4 linked regions of the Homo sapiens genome follow. The protein of the gene in region 1 purifies or fractionates together with the protein of each later gene. This does not show direct contact. Each region holds a gene or a part of one and is shown on either strand. Other genes may lie near its edges.

Region 1 (5,150 bases):
TGGGATTACAGGCGTGAGCCACCACGCCCAGCCTCCAGACAAGTTTTTAAAGAAGCAAAATAAAACAAAAACACACACGTACACGTGAGGTAGGAAGCCATGTCCAAGGTGGCATACCCTTATACAGGAATAAAGTGGGCTATATTTCCAAATACTGTGATTTTAGATACATTATTATTTGGCTCTCAAAGGAACCAGTAGTATATGAAATGCAGTGTATGTGTGAGATACTGGAAAATACAGACATAGAAGGTAAACTTGAACATGTATGGTAAATAAAGTGTTCTACTGTTAAACAAATCTGCGTAACTTCCCCTAATATCTAAACAGTGGGGAATCTGAATGCGTAATATCCGTAAAGAGTACAACCTCCAATGAGATACCAAAATGTTTTAAGTATTTTTATTTTTCAAGATATGTTAAATAATTGGATATGTTTTAAAGGGTGCCTTCAAAAATTACGTTTCTTTTTAAGAGACGGGGTCTCACTATGTTGCCCAAGCTGGAGTGTAGTGGCTATTCACAGGTGTGATCATTGTGCACTATAGCCTTAAACTCCTGGGCTCAAGCCATCCTCCTGCCTCAGCCTCCCAAGTAGGTGGGACAACAGGTATGTATCACTGCACCTGGCAAAAATTACCTTTTAATAAAGAAAAAATTATAATGTTCTATTTATCATTTTTCTCATACGCATCACCTTAAATAGAAAATCTCAACGGCTAGCAAGTCTAACCTTTTCTATTTGCTAACATTTGAACGACCACTACTGCATGAAAATGACCCTATATGGACTGTAAGTGAAGTATTACCTGGTAACTGAAGTAAGTATTTATAGGGTTCTAGAAGAATTCTTTGGACTGTTTCTTGAGTCTTCTCCATTGGATTTAAACTTCAAAGCTAATCTGTCAAAAAGGAGAAACATAAAGATCACATGAAACTAATCATCTTTCAGTGTCAAACTGCAAAGGAATTTGTATTGCAGGGTGTTTGTGAAAAGACACCTAGTCTGGTTTAAAAAGAAGATTCTGTTGCTGGGCACGGTAGTTCACGCCTGTAATCCCAGCACTTTGGGAGGCTGAGGCGGGCGGATAGCTTAAGCCCAGGAGTTCGAGACCAGCCTGGGCAACATGGCAAAACCTTGTCTCTACTAAAAATATGAAAAATTAGCTGAGGTGGGTAGATCATGAGGTCAGGAGTTCGAGACCAGCCTTCACACCATCTCTACTAAAACTACAAAGATTAGCCGAGCATGGTGGTGTGTGCCTGTAGTTCTGGCTACTTGGGAGGCTGAGGCAGGAGAACTGCTTGAACCCGGGAGGCAGAGGTTGCAGTGAGCTGAGATCACACCACTGCACTCCAGCCTGGGCGAAAGAGTGACTCCAGTCTCAAAAAAACAAAGCAAGATTCTACAGCTATGAAGCCTTGAAAACATGTTAAGTGAAAGAAGCCAATCTCAAGAGACTACATATTGTATGATTCCATTTATACGAAATGTTCAGAATAAGCCAATCTACAGAGAAAGAAAGTAGATTAGTGGTTAGGAACAGGGACTAATTGCTAATGAGTACAGGGTTTCTTTTCGCAGGGATCAAAATGTTATAAAATTAAATTGTGATGGTTGCACAGCCCTGTGAATACACTAAAAACTGCTGAAATGTACACTTTAAATGGGTGGTATGTAAATTATATCTCAATTAGAAAATTCTTCATTCAAGTGATTATATTGGTCAAAGTGTTGTCTTGGTTTTTAAGTTGTTTTCTTAGTCACATAACTTATATTAAGCTTTTCCTATTTTAATCAACCACAAAAGGCTTAATTTGTTGACGGCAAATGTCAAAACACATCCAAAGAATTGGAAAGATACCTCTGTATTTAACTGATTACACTAATTAGTAAACATATCCTTTTTTAAATGAGCACTAAGATGAGTATGTTTTATGTATTTAAAATTTAAAGGGATTCTCCTCGTCCCCCTAGTAGTTTCTCTACAATCAATCCATTTCAGAGATTTCTGATTTAAAATACGCATTAACTCAAATGCATATATTTATTAAACATATTCCCCTTTATACTGAAATCTGTCTTATTTCAGTATTTCCTAGAATAACACTCATGGTCTTCCTAGGGTCTCCCTGTACTGTTGAATCTCTACTTTATTTCTTTGTATCTGTTTCTATTATTACTTGTCCTCATATTAGGAATCTAACTGCTCTAGCATCTTTGGCACATTTTGGGAAGTTTATTACTTTTATCCTCTTTCTTTTGCTTCTTGGGACTATGATTTAGTCTTTAGAATCCTGAGCCCACTTCTAACCAACTTTTCTACAACAAAAAGGCTAAATGTAATATGGCATCTAATGGCAGTTTGTGGTTAGGGCTGTTCAATGAGTTGCACATCATTGGATTTTGGAATTGGAAACCACTTTAGAAAGTTATCTCAGTATGCCAGAAGATAAAGCACAAGAATATATTTGCTTGAGTGAGGGCCACTTTCTTTTGAATGAAGAAAATGAAGTTCAGTTCATGTACTTTGTGTTATTCTGATTGCTCAAAGGTCCTTTTGTTTTTTTTTTTTGAGACGGAGTTTTGCTCGTTGCCCAGGCTGGAGTGCAGTGGCGCAATCTTGGCTCACTGCAACCTCCACCTCCCGGGTTCAAGTGATTCCCCTGCCTCAGCCTCCCGAATAGCAGGGATTACAGGTTCTTGCCACCACGCCCAGCTAATTTTTTGAATTTTTAGTAGAGATGGGGTTTCACTATGTTGGCCAGGCTGGTCTCAAAACTCCTGACCTCAGGCGATCCACCCGCCTCAGCCTCCCAAAGTGTTGGAATTGCAGGTGTTAGCTACTGTGCCCGGCCTGATCCTTTTTTTCTAAGTCTGGGCCAGAGACTTAGAAATCTTCAATTTAAATATGCATCTTGTATGATTCTGATACAGCTGCTTGAGAATGTTAGGGGAACTGGAAATAGGTTGCTTACATGGTATCACACCACATCACAACTAAGGGGGTGTGGGCTACTGTTATTTATTGTAACAGTGAGGATGTGTTCCTTTTTTTTTTTTTTTTTTTTTTTTGAGACGGAGTCTCACTCTGTCGCCCAGGCTGGAGTGCAGTGGCACGATCTCGGCTCACTGCAACCTCTGCCTCCTGGGCTCAAGCAATTCTCCTGACTCAGCCTTCTGAGTAGCTGGGACTACAGGTGCCCACCACCACGCCCAGCTAATTTTTGTATTTTAGTAGAGACGGGGTTTCACCAGTGTTCCTCGATTTCTAAATCAGCCCTAGTAACTTCATAATGTTAAGTAATAAAAGTCATCTTCTATAGCCCAGTCACCTGATACTATGATCTGATCATTGATACTCTCAGGGGTAAGGCAATTCTAGTACTGTAACTTCTTGCTGGCATTAAATTTAAAAATGTAAAATATACTTAGGAGCAGAATCTGACTTTTGTGGATTTATATTATAAATTAATCCACCAAAGACAAGACTTTTGCACATATTTCAGTAAATAAACACACTGATTCATATACATGCAGCCAAGCAAATCCAAAGATCCTGAGTAAATACCAACAACGTGCCACAAAAGTAAAATTTCCAAAATCTTGCACTATGTGTTTATTACAGCACTATTCACAATAGTAAAGATATGGAATCAACCTAAGTGTCCATCAGCAGATGACTGAATAAAGAAAATGTGGTATATATACAACGAATGATTACTCAGCCATTAAAACAAAATGAAATCATGTCATTTGCAGCAAAATGGATGGATAGCCCTTACCTTAAGTGTAACAAGTCAGACATAAAAGACAAATAGTACATCTTCTCAATTATAAATGGGAGCTAGATAATGTGTATACATGGACATGGAGTGTGGAATGATAGACAATGGAGATTCCAAAGGGTGAGAAGGTGGGAAGGAGGTGGATGATGAAAGATTACTTAATGGGTACAACGTGATTACATGGGTGATGGACCCCCTAAAAGTCCTGACTTCACTACAATGCAATCTATGCATGTGATAAAACTACACTTGCACCCCATAAATTTATACAAGTAAGAATAAACAAATAAAAAACCCTCCAAACCAAAATCTAATTATTAGTGCTAGCATTCCACTTTTCCAGCACAATTACGAGTGTAGAAGTGCTGAGACTACCCAATTTGGTGACAATCAGGTATTTAATGTTCCTGTTTTGTAGCAGTCAATGAATACAAGGGTAAAATGGTTTGAACCACATTGTCTCTGTCATGCAGTTGTTTTTCTGCTGTGAAATGAGACGTATAATATGGCAACAGGAGAAAAGAATAAAACTTCTACATATGTATGCACTGTTAGGCAGTTGGTAAGCACATGATAATGGGTGGCTGAAATAATAACACACACATATAACCATCAACTGTGCAAGTGCTTTGATGCTTCCCCATACTGTAAACCATCTCATGGGTCACAGAAACCTTTTGAGAATATGATGAAAGCTATGAATCTTCTAAAAAAAAAAAAAAAAGCCCGGTGTATGTGTTAATAAGTTGCAACACAAATGTATACACTGCCACAAAGACTTACAACATACAAATTCTCAGAGATCATATAGTCCCTGAATGTTTACACGTACCTCAGATTAAGATTCCCAGCTATGGAATATCTTTACCCTTTAATGCCAAGCAGACAAATATTCGTGTTTGTGTTATAACAAGCTAAGACATAAATTCCACTAGCTTAACTCTTTATTGAAGGCAGATTACAAATGAAAATTAAAGCACAAAACTAGTGTATAGTTCAGGTTACTCTTCAGGATTGAAAGGCATATTTTTTTGTAGTCTGTTCTTATCTATATGAAACAATCATAAAAAAGATCAGCACTCCACCAAAAGAAATCATTTTAACAACATGAATTCAAAGAGAAACATCCCATATGGAAAATTTCTACATCCATCTTGACTAACAATTAATACCAAAGACGTCGCAAGGAAAAAAAGGCTCATAAAGAATCAAGTAAGCGAAATAATCAACATACCTATTAGGCAAAAACCTATTTAGTTAGGTAACCTATTATGCAAATACCTATTTAGGTAACCTATTACCTATACTATTTGATCTCTGACACGTGACCTTATTATCAGGGATTGAAGTAAGAAAAGAAG
Region 2 (5,150 bases), on another chromosome or scaffold:
AAATTAACTTCCTACTTGTAAAAAGGCAGAGTTTTCCTTTTCCTTTGATTAACGACAATTAGGATGTATGTAATAGTTTGTATCTGCCAGGCTGTATCAAAGGGTGACACTTCTTTTTGGCTTTCGCAATCTCTTTAGCACACACTGCTTGTGATGTGATCACAGTCTGGTTCAATGGTTATTCAATAATACAGGTTAGGTGTCCTTTACTGAAACACTTAAGACAAGAAGTGTTTTGGATTTCAGGCTTTTTCAAGTTTTGGAATATTTGTTATTATGCTTACCAGTTGAACATTCTAAATTCAAAAATCAAAAATCCAAAATGCTCCAGTGAGCATTTCCTTTGTGCATCATGCTGGTGCTCAAAAAGTTTTGAATTTTGGAGCATTTCAGATTTGGGATGTTCGAATTATAAAACTGCTTGATTTTTCCCTCTAAAAATATTAATAATAATAAAGGAGTGATGTCATAAAAGAAATGCAAATTAAACTTTACAAACTTTAAAAATAAAAAAATACAATGATAAAAGGAAGAAACACACACATTATTTGTATTCAGAATCTATTTAGCCTACTCTAGTAATCTAATGACTCAGCTAAATCCTAGTAATATCATTCTTATTAAAATACCATTCCAAAATCTAAAACATAAAATTTCAATTTTCATAATTTAGGAAAAAGAACCACAGGTTGATACTATTTATTTCAAGATAGTAACACTTGCAAACTCTTCATAGGTCCAGGAAATTAAAACACCTCATCCATGGAGTCTAGTGACCCCCTCCAACAGTCTGGGCTGGCTTGTTACTACTATTCATAAATGTGCTCTACCTCAGAGGATGAATGATGTACTTCAGACCTGTGAAGTCAACCCTCCAGCAATAAACCCTCTAGTATACTTTCCTGCACTAACCAGTAAAACACCAACATGGTAAATTCATCCTTTCAAGAAAGTTAATTGATTCCAGAGACAACTGAGAAATGCCAAATGACTGGCGCATAAAAGTACCGTTTCTAAATCACAGATCCTAAACTCCATAATGCAGATTGACCATCACCTCTACAAATACTGCAGTGGGTCAAGTTCAACTCTTTTACACTGTCCCCTAAGATGCCTAGAAACAATGTGTGATAAAGCCAGGTGTAACAAGAGGAAAGGTGGCTAAATGCAGCCCATTTCCTGAAGCAGTCACCCATTTTATGCCCTCAACACATCTCCTAAGTTAAGAAGCATAAAAGGTTTACTCAAAGATAAAAGCTCTGCACCAGGTGGCCAAGCTGACACCAGTGATTTTGGAATTAACTCTAGGGGGACTTTAAAACTTCTGCTTCCTACCATCTTTCTGCCATCACACTTCCTTGCCTGTAACTGGTGATTCATATCCATTTATCAAATATTTTCTGAGCATGTACTACACACCAAGCATCGCTCTAAGAGCTGGATAACAGGCAAGGTCTTCATCAGATTTACTTCTAGAGAAAACATAAAAATAAGCAAAAATAGGGCCAGGCATAGTGGCTAATGCCTGTAATCCCAGCACTTTGGGAGGCCAGGGCGGGTGGATCACGAGGTCAGGAGTCCGAGACCAGCCTGGCCAACATAGTGAAACCCTGTCTCTACTAAAAATACAAAAATTAGCTGGGCATGGCGTGCCTGTAATCCCAGCTACTTGGGAGGCTGAGGCAGGACAATCACTTGAACCTGGGAGGTGGAGGTTGCAGTCAGCTGAGATTGTGTCACTGCACTCCAGGTTGGGCAACAGAGTGAGACTTCATCTCAAAAAAAAGCGAAAAGGAAATAAACGATGAACTATATGGAGACATTTAGATAATTTAAGAATATTTTTATCTGAACTGTGATTCATTTAAATGCCTGTTTTATTTAGAAAATTCTGCCTATAAATCTACTGGAAAGTAGTCTAAGTTTTCAAATCCTAAAATCTCTCTTCTTCATGTTACGCGATATTTGACATTTATTCCTATGGTGTAGTGCTTATTAAGGTTGGAATGTGTAATATGTGTTAATTAGTTTCTTCCTATTCATATAAATTTCAGAAAACTAAAATGAAGAACAATGTCGATCTAAACATGTTAGACATAGGAGGAAGTATACCTGCGTGTATTTTGATTCAGAAAATTAAGTTGTAGTTTTGATTACTTTCTTCCTGGTGTACTTGGACATCTCTATCGCAAACATTTATATGACTTTACAAAGGCATAAAGCTTATAATTCTTTGATTTGCTCATACCAAGATTTCCTTACCTTGGCACTACTGGTATTTTAGGCCACATTATTCTTTGCTATGGGGGCTGTTCTGTGCACTGTAGAATGTTTGGCAGCATCCTTGGCCTCCACCCAATAGATGCCTTCAGTTAACATCCTCCCCCAGCTGTGACAACCAAAAATGCCTCCAGGCACTGCCAAATGTCCCCTGCCAAATGTCTCAACTGTCAACCCTACTTGAGAGCCACTCACAGGTCTTCACTGAGTAAACATATTGTTCTACAGTATTAAAGAAAGTTCCAAACAAGAAAAAAAGGATTTAAATGAACCTCCTCAACCCAGAGGCTATAGGCTCCCTGAAGGTTTCCTTCCTTTCCTGTTCTGTTCACTCCTCCAGGCCTGGGCATTAACAGGTGCTCAAACATTTGCTGAAAGGAGAATCAATCACCATTGGGAACCAGTCAGAAAAGAGAGTATGAGAAATTTAAGATTAAAAAAACAAAACAAAACTTAAGTAATGGCCATTGATCCAGATTTTGAAATAATTTAATTTGTCTGGCTATATAATGGAATGCAGCAAATATTCTGATTAGAGTTGAGTGCCTATGCTAAGCATAATGGGGTACAAGAGGAGTAAAACAGTCCCTGGCCTCAAGGAGCCTACGGGTGGCTGGGGGAGGTAAATATGCAGTTATGCAGGTAGGTGCAATACAACAGACTAGAATGTCCACTGCAAACATACACCATGCTGTGTGTGTATTCCCAGTCCACTTTTTCAAATATCAAGAGATTCCATGAAGAAGGCTGGCATTTGACATGGGCTTTGAAGTGTAAGTAAAATTTTGATGAGCAAAAGTAGGACACAGTACAGTAGTTAAACAAGAGGGAATGACATAAGCAGAAACTGGATATTTCTTGGGGAAATAGTGACCAGTTGGGTTGGGAACATTTTAAAAAGTACAGTAGAGGGATTGTGAAACATTAAGTAAGGTCAAATGAGTTCAGGTCGCAGGAAGGTCTACAAGTCTGAATAAGGAATTTGGACTTAATGGTTTTGTTCAAGTCCCAACAGGAGAGTGACCTCCCTGAAGATGTGGCCGTCTACCCTGCCAAAGCTGTGCAAGATTAGTTCCACTGGGGCGCGGGGGTAGGTGCAGAGGCCATTCTTACTGCTACCCACAGTAATACAAAAGTGTAATGACATGGAATTTACCTATAGTATATGCCTTGCATTCTATTTTTCATTCTATTTTACTCCGTTATTTTTAAGTAATGGCAAACATCCAATAATTTGGTTTCACAACCCACTGAAGGGTTTGCAAAGCATTTCTTCGACCTTTTGGATAAATATGGTGAATTCAAATGTTGGGGGTACTGGAAAAAAGGAAGAGTATAACAGTTAAGTAGGAGACTACTGAGCCAGAATTGGCCTGGTGTGTCATTATTCTAGGGACTGGGAGGATGGGATGCTGGAATACCAAGCATGACTCTATGGTGGTAGAGGGTGTAACTCTGAAGTGAATGATCATGAAGTTCAAGCTAGTTACAGCTAAAAAGGAAGCCAACAGAATGGGAAAAGAGAAATGGCGGAAGGCAAGCAGGGGACAGACGGTGGGAGCGGCAAGGAGTGACAGGGACACAGCGTTCAGAAGTGTTAAAGGTGGGGTCACTTTTCTCACTAATTATACGGTCCAAGCTCTGGAGTATCTAAAGTGCAATTAGAAATTCACTCCAGTTGCAGAATCAGGATGCCAGATGAGAGAGGTGAAGAGTCAGTGTCTGTGTTGATGGGACACAGTATAAATAATATATAAGAATGTAAAACCAGGTGCTGAAGTGTTTGAGGACAGTGAGGCTGTGCCTTGGAAATGGTGAGATGTCAAATAAACATGTGGGTTAGCACTCACCTCAAAATATGTAATATTGAGAAGTATATAATGAAGAATATACTATGGAAGTGGCCAAGAGGATTGTGGCATTTAAGGAAACATCATATTGCAGTAACCCCAGGAAATGGAAGCATTTTGATCATTGAAAAAGGTTCAAGGAGGCAGACAGGAAAAGACAGAGTGGTTTTTGATAGGTTTAATTTTAAAGTAAAAAAAAAAAAAAGGAAGAGATTTAGATGACCATGATAATTGTTGATAAAGATCAGTGCTCAAATAACAAATTGGTGGCACAAGAGCTGAAGCTAACTTAGAACCAAGTTTTCCTTCGCTTGGCATTTTTAAAATGGAATAATTTTTTTAAAAATCTGGGTTTCTGGCTTTCTTGCAAAGTCTGAAGTTCTGGTAATGTTGACTCTATGGTCCTACGTGGCTTTTAAAATGTGCATACCTTTAGCTCTACTGTGTGTATATATCATGTGTATACCATCTGTCGGGGTTGGATAAATTATGGAATACTATTTAGGGACTGAAAAGACTTAGAGCTCTAAGTATAGACATGGAAAGATTTCTTACAAATAAAAAAGCAAACTGCTGAATAACGTATAGTGCAATCACATTAATGTGAAAAAATGGAACTATATTATAATAATATATATTATATAACTTATGACATAAAATATATGGCCTACACAGCCACTGTGGAAAATATATGGCCATTCCTTAAAAAGAAAAACAGAATTACCATATGACCCAGCAATCCTACTTCTGAGTATATACCCAAAAGAACTGAAAGCAGGAACTCGAACAGCTCTTTGTATACTATGCTCATAGAAGCATTATTCATTATTCCCAATAGTCAAAAAGTGGAAGCAACCCAAGTATCCACCAGTGGATGAATGGATAAACAAAATGTGGTACATATACACAGTGGAGTATTACTTAGCCTTAAAAGTTAAGGAAATTCTGACACAATCTACAACATGAAAGAAGCTTGAAGACATTATGCTATGTGAATTAAACTAGTGACAAAAGTAGTAC
Region 3 (5,150 bases), on another chromosome or scaffold:
TATTATAAATTACTTTTATTTCTCCTTTATATTATAGTTAAGCCATTACATTTTTTTCTTTTTTTGAAATTGTTAGTATAGCTTAAGTATGTTATACATCAATTTCATTTCAGGAGAGTAAAGGCATTGCAACTTTTTTTAATATAAAAGGGAATTTGGTCACATAGGGTTTGAGAATCACTGGTCTAGTTGCTCCTCAATCCCACTCTCCTCTCAATCTGTTGTCAACTAAATACACAGGAAGCTAGGCACATTTGGACTTCATCTTAAAAAAGAGAAAATGGGTTCTATGTGCTACAAGGATTACTTCCTTTTAGTAAAGTTGTGTGTCAATTATTGTACAGAATAATCTAAGTTGCTAAAAGTATCTCTGGTAGTTCCTAACGCTGTCGTCAATGAATGGATGAAATCCCATGATAAGTAACCCCTGGACAAGACAGCTTAACATTTGAAATAATATACTATAAAACACACCCACAAGACTATTTTAAGTGGCATCCAAAAATTGATATACAAAAGTAAACTGACACTCGTGAACTGTTGAGATATGGCCACTAAAAATGGAAACATCTTGCTTTGTTTATATTTTCCGTTTGTTTTAAAGAGAATGCTTGCTTTGGGATATAATCCGAATACCATTAGGCTCACAGGGCAAATCTTCCTTCTCTTAGGCACTAATGCAAACAATAAATTTTTGCTAAATTTGTTAAAATTTCAGATTACAGTATTTGAACACTGTAGCTACTTTGAAACTATCTTATCTCAAATTTTTCCTTTGAAGTCATGTTTTTTATGGCAGCAGCTTTGGTGTTGAGGAAAGAGCATTGGACTTGGAGTCAGAAGACTTGGGTCTGAGTCCCGACTCTGCCACTTGTTAGCCATGTGGCCATTGGAAGAGTCATTTAGCCTCTCTGGGCCTCCATTTTTTTCAATTGTATAATGGGCATAACTAGCCTTACAGAACTGTTGAGTTGGAGACAACAGATGGAAAAGCACTTTGTAAATTGTAAAGTGCTATGCAAACTTAAGAAATCATTAGATGCTACCGTAACTTCTTTAAGGTGGCAAACAGTTTTCTGTGGGAATACAATTTCCAGAAATATGGCTTACAACTAGTGTTAAATATTTACCTATATTTAAAGACAGGTATAAAACAGACTCTCTTCCTACCTTCGAAGTTCCATTGCTCGTCGCAGCCTTTCAAAACGAACTAAATGTTCTCTCAACCTTTGTTCCTTCATCTTTTCAAAAGGCAAGATCTCTTTCCTTCTGTAGTCTTTATCTCTTTTTTTATCTAGACTAGCTCTCTCCTTTTCCTTACTTCTTCCATGAATCTGTAGAAAAAAATTAGAAGAACACTAGAAATTAAAATATTTTGGGGCTTTATTTTTCAAGTTTAGTAGGTCATTTAAAAAGTTCAAATGACTAGTAACATTTCCTTTTTCTTGGGTTTGCTAGCATGCAAGTACGCAAAGATGGTTATGGAAAAACAGAATTATCTTCTTTTGTAAACAGCTGAAGTAGTATACAACCATCCTGATCAGAGACTTACTTTCTCATATCTTCCTCTTCTTGATGGTCTACAATGATCTCCTTTAGTTTGGTCTAGTATTACCATATGTCCTGGACTCTTGGAACCTAAGGGAAAAAAATTATATAAAACAATGTCTAAAATTTTTCATTGAGAAAGAAAATATGTATGTAAAAATGCTAAATTCTGATAGTCACACACCAATACATGAAATAAAAAAACTACTTATTCTACAAGAACTTCAATGCAAAGAGTTTTTTAAACAGTTCAGTCTGCTAACATAAATACTTTCAGTGATACCAAAAGATCCTAATTCAATAGTACTAATCAATGACCATTTTAAGTCAGCCCAGAATAGCAAAGGAGCTTAGCTGGAAGAATACATTTGTTTGTTTCCCCAGAGTAGAAAAGAAGACAATTACTCCTACTAGACCTCCTTTCCTACCACAATGACACCTAACAACAAAGCTTATATCTGGATTAGAATTTCAGGTTTTCCCTTCCACTGTAAAAATTAAGTAGTAGAATGCATTAGAAAGGGATTGAAAAGATGTATAGCATACTTATTCGCTTCTTTTCTTCACTTTTTTTAATCGATTCTGATGTTTGGCCACTTGCTCCATTATCATTCTTCTCATCTTTACCTTCTATTTTCTTAGTATCCTTGCTTTCTTTTTTTTCAGATTTCTCAGACGATCTTTTCTCTTCTTTTTTGACAGAGGCTTGTGTCCTGACCATACCGCCCCAGACAAAAAAACAGAATGAGTACTTCATAATGTACCAAAAAAGTCTATCTGCTTATCAAAATAAATAAATAAAAATAAATCCTTACTTGCTACTTCTATCACTCGTATTTTTTTTATCTCCAGAACTTCTTGAACTACTCTTTTCATCATTTTCTTTCTTCATTTCTTTCTTAGAGGGATCACCTTTTACCTGAAAGGTTCGAACCAGAAAAACAATTTGTACATATGGTTACATTTTTGTGATTATAAGAAGTGTGCTAATGGCAGAAAATTTGGAAACGATAGGAAAAATATAAGGAGAGTAAAAACTACAAATACATAAAAATTAAAAATCACTGCAAATTCTACTCCCTGCTACTGTTAACAGCTATGAGTTGAGAACTAGCCATCAAATTAGACTTGCTTTGATAAACAGTTAGGGAAGCTTACTTTTTCAACAGAAATCAGCTGTCCATGCAGCTCAGTGCGATGAAGATGTGCAATACACCTGGACACCTCTGTGCTTGAAGACATAGTTACAATGCCATAGCATTTTGCCCCAGGACTTCGAGCATTTGTAACTACTTTTGCACTCAGAACCTATAAAATCAGACTGTACTTTAGAGAGTTTTACAACGTTCCAAGTACACAGACTTCTAAATACATGAAACTTCACAACTGAAACTATATATTAATTCAGGGTGTATCTTATTCTGTCTCATGTTTTTTTTTTTTTTTTTGAGATGGAGTCACACTCTGTCACGCAGGCTGGAGTGCAGTGGTGTGATCTCAGCTCACTGCAACCTCTGCCTTCTGGGTTCAAGCAATTCCCCTCCTTCAGCCTCTCAAGTAGCTGGGATTACAGGCATGCACCACCATGCCCTGCTAAGTTTTGTATTTTTAGTACAGATAGGGTTTTGCCATGTTGGCCAGGCTGGTCTCAAAGGCCTGACCTCAGGTGATCGGCCTACCTCGGCCTCCCACAGTGCTGGGATTACAAGCATGAGCCACTGCAGCCAGCCTATTTCATATTCTTGTGATCACCATCTACGTTACCCATCTTAGTAAATATTCAGGGGAACAATTTAAAGTGCCAAAAAGCAATTTAACCTTTTTATATTTATTTCCTCCCCTCAAATATGTAGCCAAAACACAATCTCATCAATGAAGTAATGGCACAATTAATAAAAGCAAATAAATTGGATTTGAACCAAAATATCCCTATCATAGGCCCACCCTGAATGTCTTTAGAGAAAGTTTCTAGTATTTTATTGATGAGTGTTAACACTTTTCTATAATGAGTAAAGAACCAATCACATATAAAAAAGCGGACTTAAAAATGCATCCCCCGAAAAACACCCTAAAGCTTGAAAGACAACACTTTCAATCTATGTGCTTTTAAAACGTATATGAACATGACAAATAATTGCAATTGTGTAAGATGGTTAGTTAAGAGAGACAAAGCAGGGATGGATGAGTGAGAAGAAAAGAGAGAGAACGATTCGGTGCTGAACAAAGAAGAGTAAAGACATAAAGCTGGGAAGAAGTAAACAGGAAAATCAGGAGTTTTATGGTATGGGTGGCTGGAACAAATCAACTTTTACCTCAACCCTAGGAAAGGCTGATTTGCTCCATAGCCATTTATTTTTTAACTCCACGGGTCTTCTTACCAAATAAATGGTATCCTCATATAGTTTTACTACTAATAAATACCAACATTAAAATATTGTTTTCACATCTCTAACAATACATTATTGAAAACAGAAGAAAAAATATAACACAGCCTATCATGGGACTACAATTCTCAGTGTTCTATTTCTGACACCTACAAGAACCTCCTTTACACTCAGGCAACTCACTAATTGAAGCAGGAAAAAAACCCTCCAAAAATCAAGAGGACAGGTTTTGGTAATATTAATGGCTATTTACCAATAATGGTCACTAATTCAGTAATTTCAATATCTGAAAGCCTATCATGTGCACATGAAGTACACTAAATAAGGTCCCTGACCTCAAAAAGCTTACACTGGAGTACATTAACTATTTGATGTATATGAAAAACTATAATGTAAGTAGACAGTATTGAGAGCCGTCAGGGATGCGGCTCACAATTCAAAGCATTTGTTATTAATTGAGTATTCTTTGACTACTCCTTCTCTTCCTTTAGGTCTCCCCTTAACTGCCAGAGAAACTTTTCCTGATGAACTAACCACAGGAAAGCCTCCCCTTTTTAACACCTGTGTACTTTTCCTTCACAAGACTTATAACAACTTCTGATTAGGTTTATATATTTAGGCGTGGTGCGATGGCTCACACCTGTAACCCCAGCACTTTGGGAGGCTGAGACTGGTGGATCACCTGAAGCCAGGAGTTTGAGATCAGCCTGGCCAACATAGTGAAAAACTCATCTCTACTAAAAATACAAAAATTAGCCCAGTGCAGTTGCTCATGCCTGTAATCCCAGTTACTAGGTAGGCTTGAGGCATGAGAATCGTTTAAACTTGGGAGGCAGAGGTCGCAGTGAGCCCACATCACGCTGCTACACCCCAGCCTGGGTGACACAGTGAGACTGTGTCTCAAAAAGAAAAAAAAAAGTTTATATATAAACTTAATGTAGATATATGTTTATATATAACTTTATATAAGTTTAAACCATTCTCATGCCTATATATATAGCCAGTTTTATATTTTTCTCCATTACTGGACTAGAAATCTGTAACAAGGATCATATCTGGTTCTCCCCAGGCCCCCGTGAATTATGTATCCCACTGACTAATAATAGTCTAAATATAAATGTATTTTCAAGATGTCCAAATCAGGCTCAGCAATATGCTAGATCCCAAGCTACGTGCTACAAAGTATCATGATGAATAAACTTATTAGTCCTTGGCTTA
Region 4 (4,932 bases), on another chromosome or scaffold:
CCCACATGTACACATCCAGATGGCTGGTTCTTTCCTTAACTGACGACATTCCACCACACAACAAGTGAAAAATGGCCTGTTCCTGCCTTAACTGATGACATTATCTTGTGAAATTCCTTCTCCTGGCTCATCCTGGCTCAAAAGCTCCCCTGCTGAGCACCTCGTGACCCCCCCACTCCTGCCTGCCAGAGAACAACCCCCCTTTGACTGTAATTTTCCTTTACCTACCCAAAACTTATAAAACGGCCCCACCCCTATCTCCCTTCACTGACTCTTTTCGGACTCAGCCCGCCTGCACCCAGGTGAAATAAACAGCCTTGTTGCTCACAAAAAGCCTGTTTGGTGGTCTCTTCACACGGACACGACTGAAACATTGTTTTGTAATATATAATATTTAATACTTTTGGACTATGCCATAACTAGTATATTTTATTCCCTTGACAATTCTATTCATGATTTTTTCCCCTGAAATGTTTTCCATCATTGAAACACTCTTGGACCTATGATTTTTTTATCAGGCACAATGGTATCCTCTTCATTACTTAGTTGGCAAAAGTGTTATTAACGAAGCGCAATAAAAGTAATTTTAGGACATTTATTGCTAAACTAGTCACTTTTTTGTGCCATTGAAATAACAACTGAGACTTAAATTACTTTGTTAGGGGAACTTTTGATATACAAGTAATTTATAATTTCTTAAAAGTCCTTAGTCAAAATAAGGCAAATTATCTACGTACTAATTAAGCTAATTGAACATTAAAGATTAAAATAACTTTTAGACTACCTAATCTTTAGATTATTTTAAAAGATCACTGTTACATGAAGCTAAAAGAACATGATAGTTTACTAAGGACAACTAAAACCAGATTTAAATTAGTATATTCATAAAGGTATCTTTTTAAAAATATAAAAATGTAACACACTTCAAATAATACTCGCCGCAACCTTTCAGATAATTTTTAATGCACCAGATTTATTTACCATTTCAAAAGATCACGATATAGGCAGATACCTTAAAAATTCTCTGGGGGCAAACAAATCAGTATATATTAGATGTACAGGGACTGCAGCCAAGACAGGCATGAGTTCCTAGGTTATAAATATCATCTTTATAAAAAGTGGGTATTTTATAGGACATCCAAGTAACACCGACTTATAAAAGCAAACACTGTACTTAAAATGTTGGCCACATATGAAAGAATAGCTGAAGGCTTTAGGGGATTGAAGAATGGATAAACTCAACCAACTAAAAACACATTACTCATCCCTCAGAACCAAAATACAGGAAAAAAAAAAATACAACAGGTTCGCACAACATCCAGAAAAGTTCAGGGAATATGAAGTGTTTCTTGGCACCCAGTTCTCGCTGTTTTAAAATCCGTCCCTTCGTTGTTGGCTAGGCCTCTCTCCAGGGAAACTAGCCGGGGCAAGAGGCAGGGGAACTGTACATGTGGGAGGTCCTGAGGGCCCTTGCACCCACTCGACCTCCACCAAGCGGATGGCCAAGCGCCACCCGGAAGTGTCCACTGGTGGGGGCGGGAAGGCACCGTAGTCCAAGGTATCCGCGGGCAGGGAGCGGGCCAGGGCGTGCGCGAGGTCGGGGGTAGCTGGGAACGGAGGAGGAGGGGCCCGCTCGAGGCTCCGCCTCTCACCGGCTGCGGCCTCGGCTACAGCCAGGGCCCAGAGGGCTCCGAGTCCCGGGAGCGGAGGCCGGAGTCGGGTTCCTGTAGAGGCTGCTCCTCCTTGTCCCCGCTCGGACGTGGTCCCCGCTGCTCGAGGTGCAGCTGCAGCAGGGCCCGGCGGTACATGGCTTCCAGCTTCTCAAGTCGGGCCCTCAGGGCCCTGGGGCTGCCCGGCTCGTCCTCTCGGCCGCTGTCTCTAGCCCTCCGGTTCGTGCTGGCCTCTTCAGGGACCCGGCGTGCCTCCGCGGGCGTCCCGTTGCCGCCTTCGCCGGGGAGCCGCAAAGCCTGACGGAAGAGGCTGCGGTTCTCGCGCTTCAGCCGCCGGTTCTCGAGCCGCAGCCGGGCGTTCTCCTGACGCAGCCGCGCGTTCTGCCGGTCCCACTCGTCCCGCGCACGGATGGCCTCCAAGTGGCTCGCCGCCAGGTCGGCAAACCGCTCCTCCAGCTGCTGTCGGGCGCCGTCCGCGCGGCCTCGCCAGCCCACGCCGCCGCCGCCGCCGCTGGGGCTGCCCCCACCACGAGCCCGGCCGGAGCGGCCTGGCCCTCGGCCGTCCGCAGCACCGTCCCCGCCGCAGCAACTCCCGCGCCTAGTGGCGCCACCACGCATGCGCCACATCGGTCCCATCCCAACCGCGCCGCCAGCCCCGTGGGCTGAGGGGCCGCGCGGCCAGGCGCGGGCAAGTTCGGGGCTGGCAGGGCGGCCGGGGTGACGACGGAGGAGGAGAGGAGGTCGCGGGCGGCGGCTGCTGGCTTAGAGCCAAAGGAGGCCGGGAATTTGCCCAGACTGAGGCGTGTCCTGTCTCCTGTGGTGGAGCTGCCCCCTGGGCCTGCTCTCTCCAGGCTGCGCTGACACACAGTTCCCCCGGGGAGTGCTTTGCTGTTCAGCCCTCCGGCTGCGCGGGAAAAAGCGTGTATCCTCAGCTGAGTTGTGCCAGGGCGCTTCCGTGCAGGCCTGGGCACTGCAGGAACTAGCCGTCCTCGCCCGCTCCGGAGTGCAACCACCAGTGGTTACTTTGCTCTTTACACGGCATTCTCAAAACTAATGATAATAGAATGATCGGTTCTGAGACAAAGCTATGGGGCAAGTTGAAAAGCTCTAAGTGCTTCATTTAAAACCCAGTGGTTTAACCCACCCCTATGTTTAATAAAACATTAAACAGAATTGGGCTGAGTACCTGTCATGGGGTTTCCCGGTGGAAACACCTGGCTCTCCAAAGAATGCAGTCAATTCCCAATTTGTGAACAGCCAGGAATTCACTCTGTAAATTGTTCAGAACGCTATAGAAACTAGGTCATACTTAGTTGATTTGTTCAGGCCAACCCCCAAAAGCTATGAAACAAGAAGTGCTCTGTTTATTGAAGAAACTGAATACTTAGTTCCAAAGTTTCTGGGATCAAGGATGTACATCTCATTGAATGAATCATTCCTTCTTGTAGGGTCTCAACCTACATAGTAACTGGATGATTGCAAAGTAATTTAAGGATTAGGTACTGACGCCAGAATCTCTTAAGCAAGTATGCCCTAGCAAGAATCTACATGTCTAACAGGGTCCCAGAGAATTCTCAGGATAACCAAAATTTCCAAACCACTGGAGCAAGTAACGAACAAGAAAAACATATAAGTACATACATGGGGTCTTCATTGACAAGTACAAATAAGGGGAAAATATTTGCTCAATTTTTTTGTACTTTTATTTTGTTAGGCAAGATCTTAAGAGACCACAACACCAAATGTGTTCTCAATTATCTCATTTTATCACATGAAAGATATAATTTTGGAATTTCAAAAAATATAAATTTAGTTTTAAGAAGGACCACATTCCAGGCCGGGCGTGGTGGCTCACGCCTGTAATCCTAGCACTTTGGGAGGCCGAGGCGGGAGGATCACAAGGTCAGGAGATCAAGACCATCCTGGCTAACACAATGAAACCCCGTCTCTACTAAAAATACAAAAATTAGCCGGGCGTGGTGGCACGGGCCTGTAGTCTCAGCTACTCGGGAGGCTGAGGCAGGAGAATCACTTGAACCCGGGAGGCAGAGTTTGCAGTGAGCTGAGATTGCGTCATTGCACTCCAGCCTGGGCGACAGAGCAAGGCTCCTTTTCAAAAAAAAAAAAAAAAAAAAAAAGGAGCATATCATTCTTGAGATGGGAGTTTCGCTCTTGTTGCCTAGGCTGGAGTGCAATGGCGCCATCTCTGCTCACTGCCACCACCACCTTCCGGGTTCAAGAGACTCAAGAAGGACTGTATCATTCTTAATTTACATTAAGGTTGAGGCTGCAAGACTGCTGTGAGCTATGATCACACCATTGTACTCCATCCTGGGCGACAAAAGGAGACCTATCTCAAAAAATAAGGAAGGGGGAAGGGATGAAGAGAGGGAGAAAGGGAAGTTTGGAAGAAAAGGAAAGAAAAAAATGTGGAAAAAATCGATCCAACAAAAAGGTATTAAGACTCATAAAGACTGTCTTATGTAGCAGTGAACATTTGTCTTATGATTTGTTAATGGAGAGTCCACCAATCTTTCAAATACGACATAGAGACAATGTCATTTCTAAGTTGAAAGTGGAGTTGAGACAACAGAGTGATTAAAATGATTAGTACTAAAAGTATATACTTGTATTTATTTTAATTTACCTAGAATAATATGTCAAGAATCATATACTCGAAGATGAAAATTACAGCTTTTCTGAGGATGGTAGCACAAAGAGTAAAAATGCTTCTCCACACTGTAGTTTGTTAATGGTCTACATATAAAAATATTACTGGGCAAATAATATGTACCTATATATGAAAATAAAATGGAAAAAATTTGGAAAATATACGGAACTGATCAAATTTAAAAGAAATGCAAGACTACAATAATACTTAAAACATATAGAATAAGTATATAAGTGCTTGATTAGAAAAATAAAAGGTAGATAGATACCTGTGCTGCTTTTTAAGACTGGGGGCTTCTGAACAGTAAAATTGCTTGCTTGCTAAATAGAAGAAAGTCTTAAAGGACATAGGTCACTCTTTTCTGACAACTGGTTCATCATTGTTCCTTAAGCTACTCTTGCTCAAGAAAAAGAATTCTGCTATAAAAAGAATTCTGTTTAAACAGTTTTAAAACTAAAAAGAAAAGGACTACTTGCACTTTGCATTTAGGAAACTCTAAGACCAAAGATTATTTCCTGACTAAGGTTACGAAGTTTGAAGTAAAAGAACAGAAAAATGCAAGTACAGCAGCCCCTCTTATTTGTAGGGATA

What was found. The genes of interacting proteins can lie anywhere in the genome.
Region 2: the proteins of GGPS1 (region 1) and FAM120A purify together in Homo sapiens (affinity purification with mass spectrometry; 3 studies listed by BioGRID and IntAct, with this or other methods). This does not show direct contact.
Region 3: the proteins of GGPS1 (region 1) and SLTM purify together in Homo sapiens (affinity purification with mass spectrometry; 2 studies listed by BioGRID and IntAct, with this or other methods). This does not show direct contact.
Region 4: the proteins of GGPS1 (region 1) and TUSC1 purify together in Homo sapiens (affinity purification with mass spectrometry; 3 studies listed by BioGRID and IntAct, with this or other methods). This does not show direct contact.

Annotation. Positions count from the first base shown.
Region 1 is NC_000001.11:235,330,994-235,336,143, reverse strand, and holds part of GGPS1 (geranylgeranyl pyrophosphate synthase), read right to left. Parts: intron 903-5,150; 5' UTR 880-902; coding exon 810-879; intron 1-809. UniProt on the Homo sapiens protein: Catalyzes the trans-addition of the three molecules of IPP onto DMAPP to form geranylgeranyl pyrophosphate, an important precursor of carotenoids and geranylated proteins.
Region 2 is NC_000009.12:93,456,988-93,462,137, reverse strand, and holds part of FAM120A (constitutive coactivator of PPAR-gamma-like protein 1), read right to left. Parts: intron 1-5,150. UniProt on the Homo sapiens protein: Component of the oxidative stress-induced survival signaling. May regulate the activation of SRC family protein kinases. May act as a scaffolding protein enabling SRC family protein kinases to phosphorylate and activate PI3-kinase.
Region 3 is NC_000015.10:58,891,727-58,896,876, forward strand, and holds part of SLTM (SAFB-like transcription modulator), read right to left. Parts: intron 2,857-5,150; coding exon 2,707-2,856; intron 2,468-2,706; coding exon 2,364-2,467; intron 2,262-2,363; coding exon 2,095-2,261; intron 1,639-2,094; coding exon 1,553-1,638; intron 1,335-1,552; coding exon 1,171-1,334; intron 1-1,170. UniProt on the Homo sapiens protein: When overexpressed, acts as a general inhibitor of transcription that eventually leads to apoptosis.
Region 4 is NC_000009.12:25,676,016-25,680,947, forward strand, and holds TUSC1 (tumor suppressor candidate gene 1 protein), read right to left. Parts: upstream 2,430-4,932; 5' UTR 2,298-2,429; coding exon 1,668-2,297; 3' UTR 954-1,667; downstream 1-953.